Linked DNA regions of Homo sapiens: region 1 is linked to region 2. Evidence: fine-mapped expression QTL. A gene starts in region 2. The other region holds a variant in brackets. All regions are shown on one strand. Distances are between the middles of the regions. Region 1 overlaps ZFP64 (ZFP64 zinc finger protein). Region 2 holds the start of ZFP64 (ZFP64 zinc finger protein).

Region 1 (8,340 bases), 45 kb before region 2:
TTATTGTTGTTTTTGAGCTATTTTACGACTTAGTTTTTTTTTTTTTAGACACAGTCTCACTCTGTCACCAAGGCTAGAGTGCGGTGGCACATGATCACAGCTCACTGCAGCCTCAACCTCCCCAGCTCAAGTGATCCTCTAATCTCAGCCTCTAGAGTAGTTGGGGCTACAGGTGCACACCACCACACCCGGCCAATTTTTTTTTTTATTATTAATAGTATTTGTAGAGACAGGGTCTCCCCTATGCTGCTCAAGCTGGTCTGGAATCCTTGGGCTCATGTGATCCTTTTGCCTTGGCCTCCCAAAGTGCTGAGATTATAGGCGTGAACCACCATGCCTGGCCATTTTATAACTTTGCAAGTTACAGAAATAGATAGTGTTGCAAATAACTCATCCACAGGACTGCAAACAGATTTCGTTTGATGGAACACAGCTAATTACTACTCTGGAGATACTGACCAGTTTTGGATCTGTTGGTGAATTTATTTCAGCATTCCTGATTGCCTATGTAATCATGCATTTGTTAATCCTCCTTTGAGCCTGTTGTGATAGTTTGCTGATTCCCCCTTTAATTAATGAATTAAATACTTGACGTGTTAATCTTATATTTGTAGGACAGTCATGATTTTAACTTAAAAAATTATCTTTTAACACAGGTGAAGGCATAATGGAAAATATATAGCTTTAAATGTTTTTATTACTAAAGACTAAGTGAACTTAATACATGAAATTAGAATAACAAAATAAAATGAAAGAAAAGCAGGGGAAAGAAGTATTAAAATAAAAGCTGAGGCCAGGCATGGTGGCTCACACCTACAATCCCAGCACTTTGGGAGGCCAAGGCGGGCAGATCACGAGGTCAAGAGATCAAGACTATCCTGGTCAACATGGTGAAACCCCGTCTCTACAAAATATACAAAAAAATTAGCTGGGTGTGGTAGCGTGCACCTGTAGTCCCAGCTATTCGGGAGGCTGAGGCAGGAGAATCGCTTGAATTCGAGAGGTGGAGGTTGCAGTGAGCCGAGATCGCGCCACTGCACTCCAGCCTGGTGACAGAGCGAGACTCCGTCTCAAAAAAAAAAAAAAAAAAAAAAAATGCTGAAAGCTGAAATGAATGAAATGGAGGAGGGGTAGAGAAATAAATAAAAGCAAAAGTGCTACTTTTACTTTAATACAAATGACTAAATAAGTAAACCCTTAGCATACTAAGTAGAAGACTAAAAATACAACAATAAAAAAAGAAACCCCAAAACCAGTAGTAACAAGAAAGGTGGTGGACCCCCAAATGCTAAAGATATTAAAATATTTTAAAAAGAAAGTTAAATGGAATCATAGGGCCACGTAATTGAAAATTTAGAGCAGAGTAAATGATGTTTTTTCTTTTGCTAAATATAAACTACTAAAATTGATCCAGATAAGGTATACAACCTGAACAGATCAGTAATTACAGAAAATAATTGGGAAATTTGTTAAGAATGTTACAGTGAAAAAGAGTATCAGCCAAGATAACAGAACAGATAATTTCTGAGATAGTCAAACTATTTCAGGTCACCGAAAAAGAAGAAAAGAGCTCCAGCTTATTTTTAGAGTTGCACAAGCTCCAATTTATTTTTAGAGTTGCATAAGAAACAAGCAAAAATCAGAGATAGCACTAAAAAAGAAAACTAGAGACCAGCTGCATGTATGTGTATACAGTCGTTGCCACTTATCAACAGGGATCCATTCTGAGAAATAGGGCGTAGCCTATGGCTCTTAGGCTAGAAATCCATACAGCACGTGAATGTGCTGAGTACTATAGGTAATGGTAACACAATGGTAAGTACTTGTCTATCTAAATATAACTAAACATAGAAAAGGTACTGTAGCCCAGGCGTGGTGGCTCATGCCTGTAATCCCAGCACTTTGGGAGGCTTAGGTGGGTGGATCACTTGAGCCCAGGAGTTTGAGACCAGCCTGGGCAGAATGGCAACACCCCATCTCTACAAAAAATATGTGGTGGTACATGCCTGTGGTCCCAGCTACTTGGGAGGCTGAGGTGGGAGGATCACCTGAGCCTGGGGAGGTAGAGGCTGCAGTGAGCTGTGATTGTGCCACTGCACTCCAACCTGGGTGATAGAGTAATACCCTTTCTCAAAAACAAAACAAAACAAAACAAAAGTACAGTAAAAGTATGGTATAAAAGATAAAAATATGGTGCACCTGTTTAGGACACTTATCATGAATGGAGCTTGCAGGACTGGAAGTTGCTCTGGGTGAGTCAGTGGGTGAGTGGTGAGTGAATGTGAAGGCCTAGGTCATGACTGTGTACTACTGCAGACCTTATAAACACTGTACACTTAGACTACTCTAAATTTATTAAAAAAGTCTTTCTTCAGTAGTAAATTAAGTATAGCTTATTGTAACTGTTTTACTTTATACATGTATTAATTATATTTTGACTTATCAAAATCTTTTGTAATAACACTCAGCTTAAAACACAAGCATTGTACAACTGTACAAAAATATTCTTTCTTTATATCCTTATTCTATAAGCCTTTTCTATTTTATTTTTTTCTTTTACTTTTTCAACTTAAAAAAAAAACAAACTAAGACACAAACATGCGCATTAGCCTCAGCCTATGCAGGGTCAGGATCATCAAGATATCAGTAGGCAATAGAAATGTTTCAGCTCCTCAGAGATCTAGAACTAGAAATACCATTTGACCCAGCCATCCCATGCTGGGTATATACCCAAAGGGCTATAAATCATGCTGCTATAAAGACACATGCACACATATGTTTATTGCGGCACTATTCATAATAGCAAAGACTTGGAACCAATCCAAATGTCCAACAATGATAGACTGGATTAAGAAAATGTGGCACATATACACCATGGAATACTATGCAGCCATAAAAAATGATGAGTTCATGTCCTTTGTAGGGACATGGATGAAATTGGAAATCATCATTCTCAGTAAACTATCGCAAGGACAAAAAACCAAACACCGCATGTTCTCACTCATAGGTGGGAATTGAACAATGAGAACACATGGACACAGGAAGGGGAACATCACACTCTGGGGACTGTTGTGGGGTGGGGGGAGGGGAGAGGGATAGCATTAGGAGATATACCTAATGCTAAATGACGAGTTAATGGGCGCAGCACACCAGCATGGCACGTGTATACATATGTAACTAACCTGCACATTGTGCACATGTACCCTAAAACTTAAAGTATAATAAAAAAAAGAAATGTTTCAGCTCCATTATTCTTATGAGATCACCATTGTAACATGCAGTCTGTTGTTGACCAAAATGCTCTTATGTAGCACATGAACTAGAGTTGCAAAACTTCCAGATAAGATATTAGAAAACGAAATCCAGCAGTGTTTTGGAAGAATAATTCAACATGACCAAGAGGATTTCTTCCAGGAATGCAAGGTGACTTAACATACCAGGCTATATGCTACACAAATTCACTGTGTCAACATATTTAAGTGCAAAACCCAAATACTTACGGCTAACAATTTTAAGAAGATATTTGATAAAATTCAGCAAGCTACCCTGATAAGTAAAACTGCATCAGTATTTTATATGAACTTATCAAAAGAATGACTATGAAAATATTAAGTCTTCCACTCAAAAACCCTTATTTAACTCCATTGTAAACATTATTCAGTCAAATTATGTAGTCTATTTTCATTATATAAGGTCTGTGTTTCTTTTTTTTTGAGATGGAGTTGCACTCTGTCACCCAGGCTGGAGTGCAGTGGCGCAATTTTGGCTCACTGCAGCCTCCACCTCCTGGGTTCAAGCAATTTCACTCTAAGTGAAAACTGGAGTGGAAGAAAATGACCTAAGTACCATAAAAACCATTATCCAAAGGAGTGGTGTATATTACATTGGAAAATTCTGAAGTTAGAATTAGGGACACAGCAAGGATGCCAGCTGTATCAGCATTGTTTGGAGGTTCTGGCTAAAGCAACAGGACAAGAAAACAAAATAAGTAGTAAAAATATTCTAAAGGAAGAGATGAAACAATCTGAAAATAAAAGACTATATCAGATAATTATAAATCATATTTATCAGAGACCAAGAATTTCTAATAAATACCATTCATTACTGAGAATTTTTCTTTAATATAGACAAATATACCCTATTTTGGCTTTTCTTGATGTTTGCAACAAATGCAAAAATTCCTATTCACAATTATGATAAAATTATGGAATAATAAGAAAACACAGGACCGGGCACCGTGGCTCACACCTGTAATCCCAGCACTTTGGGAGGCCGAGGCAGGCGGATCACTTGAGGCCAGGAGTGCAAGACCAGCCTGGTCCACATGGCGAAACCCCATCTCTACTAAAGATACACACAAAAAAATTAGCCAGGCATGGTGGCAGGCGCCTGTAATCCCAGCTACTCAAGAGGCTGAAGTGGGAGAATCTCTTGAACCCAGGAGGTGGAGGCTGCAGTGAGCCAAAATTGGGTGGAAGACTTAATATTTTCATAGTTGTGCTTTTGATAAGTTCATATAAAATACTGATGCAATTTCAATAAAAATCTCCAAAAGGTTTTCTTTTTTGGTGGGGGTGGTTTAGGTACTGGATAAAATAACAGTTCCTTTGGAAGAATAAATATCTAAGAATTGCTAAGAACATTTTGGAAAATAATAGCTGGGGGAAGCTTTGTAAGTCTAAAAGATTAAGCTTACCTTAATGCTAGTATAATCAAATATGTCATGTTGGCCAGCCAGATCTTCTTTGGGAATCTCAGATCTATAATCTTCCAGAATAAAGAAGTTCTGGAAGTATATTTGTGAACTTTATCTACACGATGGCTTAAATTAGGATTTCAGTTTTCAGGAAAATAATATTTAACAAATGGTCCTGGCATAAGTGGACAGTCAAACCTGTTCATCATAACATATAAATATGAGTTCTTGGCATGAGCTGTAATCCCAGCACTCTGAAAGGCCGAGGTGGGCAGATCACTGGAGGCCAGGAGTTTAAGACGAGCATGGCCAACATGGCGAAATCTCGTCTCTACTAAAAATACAAAAATTAGCCAGGTGTGGTGGCACACGCCTGTGATCCCAGCTACGTGGGAGGCTGAGGCAGGAGAATCACCTGAGCCTGGGAGGCAGAGCAGGTAGTGAGCTGAGATCGCGCCACGGCACTCCAGGCTGGGCGACAGCCAGACTCTGTCTCAAAACAA[GA/G]AAAAAAAAAAAAAAAGAATTCTGGCTGCAGCAAGGAGCCATTGAAAAACAAATAAGCAAGCAGTAAAAACACTAAAGGGAAAACCAGTTTAATCTCAGGGGAAGGATGGACGTTCTTAGAAAACACACGTGCCACAAATGAAGCGACAGAAGAATCTAACTACAGAAAAAGACAGTCATTTTTATATGGTGACAGCCCCACAGGTAAAGTCAAAAGACAATGACAGGAGGGGAAGAAACTCAGCAATGTGTGACTGATGTCGGGTTAATGTCCCCAACTTCCCAACAACCAAAAGGAGGGAGTAAGAGTTCTAAGTTCATAGAAGAGAGAAGCACACATGGTCAACCAGCCCTATGCAGAGACGTCTCAGAAAACGCAGACCACAGCACCAGCTAGGGGAGTGCACAAAGGCCAGATAACCATTTTCACGCAGCAGAGTGATAAAACTTCCAAAGGTAGTTGAGCTCACATCAGGGATGAGACTATCATTGTGAAAATTAATCCGTATTTATGCAAGTACAAACTATGGAAACTCCGTGAAACTTACACTTTTGAATCTACTTACAGAAAAAAAAAAAAAAAAAGCTGAATATGAGAGTTTACTGGGGCAGTCGTAATGGCAAAAATATTCCCCAAACAACCTGAAGAATCATAATAGCAAGATGACGGACTAAAGCCTGGCATGTCTCTAACACTTATTTAAAAAAACTAGGTCTAGTTTTGTTGACCCACAGGACTGTCAATAAATGGAATAATCAAAGCAAGTTGCAGAGAAATGTACAGAGTATGATACAATTACTATAGAACTAGGAAAAACCTTTTCTATGTTATCTTTTGAGTCTACGTATATTGGTAAGAACACAGAGCACCTAACATTACTTACCTTGGGTGGGGTGAGAATACGGAGGGGCTGGAAGTTGTTGGCTTGGTGTTTGTACAATTCTGTGTATAATTTATTCCAAAGAGTAAGTTTTACTGTTTTGTTTGTAAAAAGACAAAACAACCAACAAATCAAATATGCATGTGTGTACATCTCTATGCATGCATGTGTATGTATGTATGTATGTGTATGTATTATATATGGAAGGCAGCTGGTAGGTAGAGATCTAAGGATACAAAAGGAAATATAGAATATAAAAAATATTATGCTTAATTAAACTACAACTTCATAACTGGAGTAGAAAACATATATACGTAAGCATAAAAAAAGATTGATAGGGGCCAGGTACGGTGGCTCACACCTGTAATCCCAGCACTTTGGGAGACCGAGGTGGGTGGATCACAAGGTCAGGAGATCGAGACCATCCTGGCTACGGTGAAACCCTGTCTCTACTAAAAATACAAAAAATTAGCCGGACTTGGTTGCGGGTGCCTAGAGTCCCAGCTACTCAGGAGGCTGAGGCAGGAGAATGGTGTGAACCCGGGAGGCGGAGCTTGTAGTGAGCTGAGATTGCGCCACTGCACTCCAGCCTGGGCAACAGAGTGAGACTCCACCTCAAAAAAAAAAAAAAGACTGATAGGAAGTCCATCAAAATGGTTACAATCTGTATAGTTTATATCTGGACAGTAAGATTATTAGTAACTTCTATTTTTTTCCTAGTAATATTCTGTTTTTCATATTTTCTATCTTGAATACACATTATAATCAGGAAAAAATCCTTTATGGTTGAAAAAAGTGGGAAAAGAGAAAGACATAGGAAATAGGACCATGACAATGGAAGTTTCCCAGCTGAAATTCAAAAGCAGAACAGTTTTTCTAAAGGGCTGTAAGCAATAAGTTTAAAGTGACAAAATTATTTAAATCACTAACATTGTACACTGCAAGCCTTTTCTGTTTCTTACCAAAAACATAGTTAATAACTCACTATTATCATTGATGATAGGAAAATAAAGAAATTATGGCAAATATAGCAAGTCATCAAAATTGTGTCCAACTATTACAGATCAAAGAAAGAAGAATAAAAGTGGTAGAAATGTATCTAAGTATTCTCATAATATTCTAAATATGCTTCTGTCCCAAGAGTAACCTCCCCTCCTCACCAATCCTTGCTGACAGCAGAAATGAGTGCTATTACAACCTTACAGAATGGCTTAAGGTACAAATATGGATGATTCTAGCTTGCTCTCTGGCACCACCTACTGATCAAACAGCATTTCAATGTAAAACAACACAATCTGAATTTTCCTCTTCTCAATACAACCTATGCTTTGGAAAAAATCTAGGTACTCTCTCAGTCCACTCATCTGGATTCTGCACAGATATTAACATCTCAAAAATGGTATTCTAGAAAATTCTGTCTTGTTAGTAGGAACTTTGATCATTTTTGTGTCTAAACAGAAATGCCAGGATTGTCAGTCTGAAGTTTCAAAATGAAAACAACAGTGGGATGGATCACTTTATCACTTTAGGTACCACATCTATTTAATGTGACTGTGGAGGAGGTAAGATGATTGTGTGACGTTTATGAAAGGACTAAAAACCTTTGCTGCTTCAGTTTGTTTTTGATTAATGACTCACGCCCCATCATTCCCAAATCCCACCTTGGCTCTAAAGAATCATTAACATTCAGTATATTTTAATCAGATATCAATTTATTATGGAACCATTCATTTTCTGCTCATTAGCACTAAACATTTTTTTTTGGGTCAAGTATCCATGTCATATTATGTAGAAAATGGTCCTTCATGCCAACAGACTTACATGTATAAAACATGAACACCCCCAAACTCTGGGGAGTATTCCAGAATGGGGCAAAAGAGAGGCTGGGAAGTACCATTTACTACACAAATGTAATAAGATGGACAGAAACCTTTATTAGAGTTGGAAAATCAAGTTGGAAACAAACACATGAATTCACTACTTAATGCATTTAATTCCAACCCCTCATTGGAATCATCTTGGTAACATTTAAGATTCTACAACAGTTATAATGCGACGATTCAGAGGTGGTCTCAAAGTTGTTACAGTGTTAAAAAAATTATAGTAAGCAGTATAAAATTACAATTTATTATGGGGCCAGGGGGATTCACAACCATCCTTAAAAACATTAAGAGCAAACCACGGCCAGGCATGGTGGCTCACACCTGTAATCCCAGCACTTTGGGAGGCTGAGGTGGGCAGATCACTTGAGGTCAGGAG
Region 2 (8,340 bases):
ACTACGCTCGACTAATTTTTTGTATTTTTAGTAGAGATGAGGTCTCACCTGTTAGCCAGGATGGTCTCGATCTCCTGACCTCGTGATCTGCCCGCCTCAGCCTCCCAAATCCCTCCCTGGGATTACAGGAGTGAGCCACCGCACCCGGCCGACATTATTTCTTGATACTAATCATATCAAGAATTAATACTATATTAATACCTGGAAAGCACTTAGTGTAGTATTTGGCACTGTATTAGAAGCTACTATATAAATACTTGTTCAATAAAGACATAGCGGGTAGATCATGAGGTCAGGAGAGCGAGACCATCCTGGCTAACATGGTGAAACCCCATCTCTACTAAAAATAAACAAAAAAAATTAGCCCGGCGTGGTGGCACACACCTGTAATCCCAGCTACTAGAGAGGCTGAGGCAAGAGAATTGCTTGAACCCGGAAGGCGCAGGTTGCAGTGAGCTGAGATTGTGCCACTGCACTCCAGCCTGGGCGACAGAGCGAGACTCCGTCTCACATAAAAAAAAAAAGATAACTCGTGTTTATAAGAAAATTTAGAAGAAACTTATAAAGAAGGGGAAAATCACTCAATATTTCCATCTCTGCCTACCATGAATATTATAAAATATTTTTTTCCATTCATTTTCTTTACACTTAAAAGTTGCGTAAGATGGCTCACGCCTGTAACCCAGCACTTTGGGAAGCCGAGATGGGTGGATCACAACAAGAGATCAAGACTATCCTGGCGAACATGGTGAAACCCCGTCTCTACTAAAAATACAAAAATTAGCTGGGTGTGGTGGCACGTGCCAGTAATCCCAGCTACTCAGAAGGCTGAGGCAGGAGAATTGCTTGAACCTGGGACGTGGAGGTTGCAGTGAGCCAAGATCATGCCACTGAACTTCCAGCCTGGTGACAGCGAGACTTCATCTCAAAAAAAAAAAAAATTGCATAAGATCATAATATTGTAAATATTCAGATCATAGTATTGTAAAACTAATCCTTTTCCTAATTTTTTTCCTTTTTTTTTTTGAGATGGAGTTTTGCTCTTGTTGCCCAGGCTGGAGTGCAAGGGCACGATCTCAGCTCACTGCAACCTCCGCCTCCTAGGTTCAAGCGATTCTCCTGCCTCAGCCTCCGGAGTATCTGGGATTACAAGCGCCACCACCACGCCAGGCTAATTTTGAATTTTTAGTAGAAATGGGGTTTCTTCATGTTGGTCAGGCTGGTCTTGAACTCCCGACCTCATGTGATCCGCCCGCCTCAGCCTCCCAAAGTGCTAGGATTACAGGCGTGAGCCACCGTGCCTGGCCCTTTTTCCTAAACATTGCATAAACATTGTGCTATATCATTAAAATCTCTTCATATATATATGATTATTTAATGGCAATACATTATTCCATGGTGTCCATGCGTCATAATCTTCTCAGCAACAATAAGGTATTTACATAATTTCCAATTTTTCCCAAGTTAAATGATACAAGACTACCTTTGTGCATATATGGTTAGATAAAATTATGCCTCATAATTTTCTGAAAATTTGTAAGATATTTACATTATGTCCAATTTTCCCCAGGTCTAGCTAAGACAAGAAATCTCTGTTCAGAAATACAGTTTGGTTGACTTGCTAAGGAGACTGGGCTGAGCACTGTGATAAGCCATCTTGCAGGGATACACTTAAGCACTTTGCAATCAATGGATGGAAGGAAGGAAACCTTTTCTTCTCTGGCAGATACTGAGATACCCATGGAACTAACAAGGAAACAAGGAAGTGAGACATGAAGTAGCTTGCATTGCTGACGATTCCTTAATGATGGAATAGGACTGACACCCAGAATGAAAGGATTTTCATAACAGATAATGTCACTGGTATGTGGAAAGTGCAAAAGTAACGACATAGACCTTCGTTAGAATCTTGACACTGTCGCTTAACAACAGTGACTTTAAGCGTGGGTTTTCTCATCTGAAAAATGGGAGGAGAGGTTTCTAATCCATGGTTTTTGTTTGTTTTTAATTTCTCCAAGAAAAAACACGGGCTTGTTATGAGAATTAAATGGGATGGTGCTCGTACCAGCACAGTCCCCCCTCCCCGCCAGTCCCCCAGCATGTTACCTGCTGGGTTCTTACTGAGGTACACTATTTAAACATGGACATATCTGAGCCCCACCTAGGAGATACTGAGTCATAACAGGGTGGGGTGGGGAGGATGGTGTTTAGGAAAATCTGTGCTTTTCACAGTAATGCAAGGAATACACCGCCAAGTTTGGGACCCAGTGTCTCCCAAACTGTTAACAGTAGCAGCTAACAAGCTGGGAGCTTACTATGTGCCAGATTTTCTGCAAACCCCTGGTAGATGGGTTCTCAAACTTCATGTGCTTCAGAGTTGCCCAGGCAGCTACGAAGGACAGCGGATCCCCAGCCCCACCCCCGAGATTGAATGGGTGGGGCCCAGAAAGCTGTTTTAAAATACACGCTCTCGCTCCCAGGTGGCTGGTTGCACTCAGTCTCTGGACCACACTTTGGGAAACAATGCACCGGGAGAAACCAGGGACTTGAAAAACGCTGATGTCCTCCTCGGTTAAATAAAAACTGAACCCCAAACCCAAATAAAGCGACCACGGCCCCGTTTTCCATTCAGATCTCCACCCTTAATGAGGAAAAGGCTTTGCAATGAGCCGGCAGGACCTCGTGAGACCTGGTGATTCCCCCAATCTCCAGGCTCTAATTTTGAGCCACTGAGGCAGAAGTTTTCCCATCAGTGTTGCCCCGTTTACCCTAGATTCCTCCCTTTCTCCTGCCCGCCCCAAACTCCGCCTGATGGGGCGGGAATGCCCTTAGGGGGTGGCGATTGTCTGAACGGCGTGCCCTCCCCCACTGTTCCCTTCCAAGGGGTCTCGCAAGGCTGGAGAGCGCCCCCGGTCTTGCGCCAGGTCGGGTGCGCCCCCACCCCAAGCCCACTCCGGCGCCCCCTGCACAGCGCGCCCGCCGCGGTCCCCGAGACGCGGCTCCGAGCCGTCACCCCGATTTCGGGGCCCCGGGCCTGCTGGCTGCGTCGCAGACGTGCTTGGGCCCGGGCCCCGGAGCGCGCACTGGGCCCCGGAGCGCGCACTGCTCCCGGAAAAGCACTTACTTTGCACCGAGCCCGCGAAGCTCTCGCCCTCGCTGCTCGCGTTCATGGCCGCAGACTGGGAGGTCCCCGGCCGGCCGGGATGCCAAAGTGGGGGACGCTGATCTACATGGTGCAAGGACTTTTCCTTTTATTTTTCCACACCCCCCACCCTGCCTTCTCCCAACTCTGCGAGGCGGGGAGGACGGATGTAAAGCAAGCTGCACTTCCGCTGCCTAGAGGGCGCTGGCCGGGCCCGGCGCCCCAACCTGGCTTTGCAGCAGCGGCTCCCCGGGGAAGCGGCGGGCGAATCCCGAGGCCCAGGCCCGCGGAGCCCCCCAACGCCCCCGGGGAGCTGGATGGCCACGCGCGTCCCGGCGTGCTGGGCGACCGCGGGTGGCGAGGGATGCGCCCCTGCCCGCACTCTGCGTTCTCCGCGGACGCGATTGGCCTCCCCGGCTCGGGGCGCCTTTTGCACCTGCAACCCCAGGCGTTGGGCCCCCAGCGCGGCCGTGCAGCAGCGCTGCTCCCGGGACGCCTGGGTGGTTTGCGGGGAGACCCACGTGCGGCTGCCGTTGCGGGGTGGGTGCGCGGGGCGCGGCGAGCTCCGGAGAAACCCAGGTTGGGCGTGAGCGCTGGGCAAATCAGCAAAGCGCTGGGCGGGTCCCTTGCCCCGCTAGGGAGACTGAGAGGACCGCGAAGAGGTGGGGTCGTAGCGCGGAGGGACCCCTGCTCCAGGAGCTGCCAACTTTATCGTGCATCGCAGTCGCCTGAAAGGCTTGTTAGAACACACGCTGTTGGGCCCACCCTAGCGTTTCTGCTTCAGTAGGTCTGGGGCGAGGCGTGAGAACGAGCATTTCTAAGTTCCCAGGTGATGCCCCTAGTGTTGGTCGGCGTCCACACTCTGAGGACAGTGACCTCTCTGCTCTGTCCCTCATGTCTTACTACTACTGTCTCCCCCGGGCTCCTGCGTCAGCCCTATTGTCTCTCTGCCGACCCTCCCAAGCCTCAGACCTCTCCCAGCCTCGAGGGATTTGCCCATAGAGTCTGTCCTGCTTCTGAAGGTCAGCATTCAAATTCACACTCAGGGAGGCCATGCTTGGCCTAATCTAATCATTCTAATATTGCAGCCCCCTCCTCCTCCCCCAACCACTCCCTGTCTCCTTCCTGTTTTTTTCTTTTTCTTTTTCTTTTCTTTTCTTTTCTTTTCTTTTCTTTTCTTTTCTTTTCTTTTCTTTTCTTTTCTTTTCTTTCTTTCTCTCTCTCTGCCTCTCTCTCTTTCTCCCTTTCTTTTTTTAGAGAGGGGGTCTTTCTCTGTCTCTCAGGCTGGAAGAGTGGTCGGATCCTAGCTCATTGCAGCCTCCAACTCCTGGGCTCAAGCAATCCCCCCTACAGGCGTGGGCCACCACCCTGGCTCACTTTTTAATTTTTATTTTTGTAGAGATGTTGCCCAGGCTGGTCTCGAATTCCTGGCCTCAAGCGATCCTCCATCAGCCTCCCAAAGTGCTGGGGTTACAGGTGTAAGCCACCATGCCTGGCCTGCTTTGTCCTTAAAAGGTGTTAGATGGAACATATTATGTATCTCGAGTATATCTGCTTAGATATAATTTAGTTGTATATTATCTGTGTTCTCCTCCCCCTTATTTTCAGTAAGTCCCTGTAAAAATGGGGATTAAAAAAATCTCTTTGCTTCACTGATGTAGTCCAGTGACTTGGCTGGTGCCTGACACATAGTAGGCTTAGTAAATATGGCTTGTATAATGAATGGGATTTTCCCTGCTGCTGCCTCTAAGGCTTGGTTTCTGCCTGCAGCAGCTGTTTATTCTCAAGTGTTTGTGAAGTGCCAGGCACTGGGCTAGCTGCTGGAGGTAGACCAGGGAGGCAGTCAACATGAAATAATCAAATCAGTACTGTAAATATATATATATTTAATATATAATATTTAATATATTTAATATATATTTATATTTATGTATATATATATTATATATAAATATATACAATATATATTATATATAAAATATTATATATTATATATTATATATTTATATATATAAAAAATATATATAAAACTTCCTTTTTTTTTTTTAACCTTAAGTTCTGGGATACATGTGCAGAACGTGCAGGTTTGTTACATAAGTATACATGTGCCATGGTGGTTTGCTGCACCTATCAACCCATCACCTAGGTTTTAAGCCCCACATGCATTAGGCATTTGTCCTAATGCTCTCCCTCCCGTTGCCCCCCACCCCCTGACAGGCCCTGGTGTGTGATGTTCCCCTCCTGTGTCCATGTGTTCTCAACATTTTGCTAGTGATAAGGGCTCCAAAGACCATAAAATGGGGCTGTAATAGTGGCTGTAGAACTGGTCATAGCAGGCCTTTCCGAGCAGGTAATATCTGAACAAGGAGCCGGGGAGGATGCAGCCATGTGAGGATGAGGGGGGAGCAATTCCAGCCTGAGGAACTGGTGGGAGCAAAAACCCTGGGGCAGGAATGAGCTAGATGTAACTGGCTGTGGCCTGCCAGTCCCACTGCAGATCACACCACTCTCACCCTGCATTGCCCAGGCAGCTCCACCAGGCTCCTTGCTGTTGTTGCTCCTCCCTCTGCCTGGATTGCTTTCCTGGTCTTTGCAGGACTGGCTATTTTAGGTCATCCAGCATCAAATGAAATGTCGCCTTCCCAGAGAGACCTTTCCTATGTCTTACCTAAAGTATTCACTCTCCCTGCGACTCTGCGACATCACCTTCATGATACCTGTCTAGCTAACATGACCCAGCAGAGCACCGCAGCTTACGGCAATATTTATTTTTTATTGCTTGATGAATGTTTACATATGTGCACACCTGGGAAGTCCCCTTCCAAGACACACATTTCCAGCCCTGGTCGGCTCCCTCATGCACCTTCCCAGCCAATAATACTATTCTGGCCAGGCAAGGTGGTTCATGTCTGTAATCCCAGCACTTTGGGAGGCCGAGGTGGGCGGATCACCTGAGGTCAGGAGTTCTAGACCAGCCTGGCCAATATAGTGAAACCCCATTTTCTTCAGTACAAAAATTAGCCAGGCTTGGTGGCGCACACCTGTAATCCCAGATACTCCAGAGGCTGAAGCAGGAAAATTGTTTGAACCCAGGAGGCGGAGGTTGCAATGAGCTGAGATGGAGCCACTGCACTCCAGCCTGGGTGATGGAGCGAGACTGTCTCAAAAAACTATAAATAAATAAAATAATACTATTCCTACTATCCAATCTTGCAGAGGTCACCATTCTAACTTTTATTGTCACGATTCCTTTTGTTGAGAGCAATATATCTCACATTTGCCTGAAGAGAAGCATCATCTGGAAGGCTCACTAAAGAATGAGTTCTTGGGTTCCAAGCTATGCTTACTGCATCAGAATTTTCTGGGGTAAGACTTGGTAATCTGCAAATATCTCAAAAGTGCCCCAGGTAATTCTTATCATGATGTAAGTCTGGGCCTTACTGGTTTGGTGGTTAAGTGTGTAGGCCCTGGAGTTAGGCTATGCCACTGCCATGCAAATCCTGGAGTTGCTGAACTAGGATTAGTTGCTTAACCTTGAATAGGAAATTCAACTGCTCTGTGTCCCGGTTTTCTGTAGCTTGGAGATAATAGTAGCACCTAGTTCATTAAGCTGTTTTGTAGGAGGAACCAATCAATATCTGTAAAGTGCTTAGAATAGTGCCTGACTCATATAACTCGGCATAAATCCTAGCTATTATTATCTTTTAATTATTTTTGGTTATTATCTGTCTCCCTACCATGTAAGCTCCAGGAGGGCATAGACCTGGCCTATTTTATTTACCTGTATCCTCTGGGGCCTAGAACAGAGCCTGGCACACAGGCATCCTCAGTTCATTTTTTATTGTGAAATGATTTCATGCATGTTTCCATGAGCTCCATTTTAACCTTTTGCTACTATGTCCAGCCAACCTTCTCTATTACACATCTTGACCACTGCAACAGTCTTTTTCTGGTCTGAAAATGTCCTATTTTCATTTCTTATTTTTCTTTCTATACTTTTAAAAAATGTTATTTTTCAACATAAGCTCCATCAAGATCAACACACTCTTATTTATTTATTTAGAGACAGAGTCTCGCTCTGTCACCCAGGCTGGAGTGCAGTGGTGCGATCTTGGCTCACTGCAACCTCCACTTCCCAGGTTCAAGCGATCCTCCCACCTCAGCCTCCTGAGTAGCTGGGATTACCGGTGTGTGCCACCACGCCCAGCTAATTTCTTTGTATTTTTGGTAGAGACGGGGTTTCATCATGTTGGCCAGGCTGGTCTCAAACTCCTGGCCTCAAGGGATCTGCCTACCTTGGCCTCCCAAAGTGCTGGAATTACAGGTGTGAACCACTGCACTTGCCCTATACTTGTTTTTCTTATTGCAAAAGTATTAGAAATTGTTGGTTAGAATTTGAAAAAAAAATACAGGAAAACATAAGAAAATAAAACCCACTTATAATTCACTATGCAGAAATAACATTTTGATTGATGAATTTTTGTGTGTGTGTTGTATGTGTGCATACACACACATATAAATCATATTCATATATTTTATAAAAATGTAATTACAGCTTACATGTTTTTCACCTCCACATGAAATATACATGGCTATCTGAGATCTCACCAACCAGAGATATATACTTATATCTTTATGTACTACATGTCTATATCTTTATAGGCTTTTTTTCTGTAGAAATGTAATAGAATGAACCATATGAATTGCTGATATATTTATTTTTTACTTAAAAATGGTAATTTTATATGGTTCAAACCAATATGTACTCATAACATTAATATTATACTTCTTTCTTTTTTTTCTTGAGATGAAGTCTCACTCTGTCACCCAGGCTGGAGTGCAGTGGTTCAATCTCAGCTCACTGCAACCTCTACCTCCTGGGTTCATGAGATTCTTCTGCCTCAGCTAGGATTACAGGTGCCTGCCACCAGCCTGTTTTTTGTTTTTAGTAGAGTTGGGGTTTCACCATGTTGCCTAGGCTGGTCTTGAACTCCTGACCTCAAGTGATCCGCCTGCCTCAGCCTCCCAAAGTGCTGAGATTACAGGCGTGAGCCACCACTCTCAGCCAATGTTTGTATTTCTATTAGAGACAGGGTTTGTTATGTTGGCCAGGCTGGTCTCGAACACCTGACCTTGTGATCCGCCCGCCTCGGCCTCCTAAAGTGCTGGGATTACAGGTGTGAGCCACCATGCCTGGC

The links. PIP is the estimated chance that this variant, and not a neighbour inherited with it, causes the effect.
Region 1: its variant is fine-mapped to the expression of ZFP64 in whole blood (INTERVAL, PIP above 0.99).

The regions. Positions count from the first base shown.
Region 1 is chr20:52,143,507-52,151,846 of GRCh38, forward strand. It overlaps ZFP64 (ZFP64 zinc finger protein), which reads right to left. Exons shown (of 6, transcript NM_018197.3): 6 at 7,772-8,340. Among named protein-coding and RNA genes, the nearest start is that of ZFP64, 44 kb to the right of the region's middle. The variant GA/G (reference allele first, on the strand shown) is at 5,200.
Region 2 is chr20:52,188,467-52,196,806 of GRCh38, forward strand. ZFP64 (ZFP64 zinc finger protein) reads right to left here and starts at 3,313. Exons shown (of 6, transcript NM_018197.3): 1 at 3,125-3,313. The coding sequence starts at 3,170. RefSeq lists enhancers at 2,168-3,024, 4,065-4,194 and silencers at 2,785-3,024, 3,385-3,654.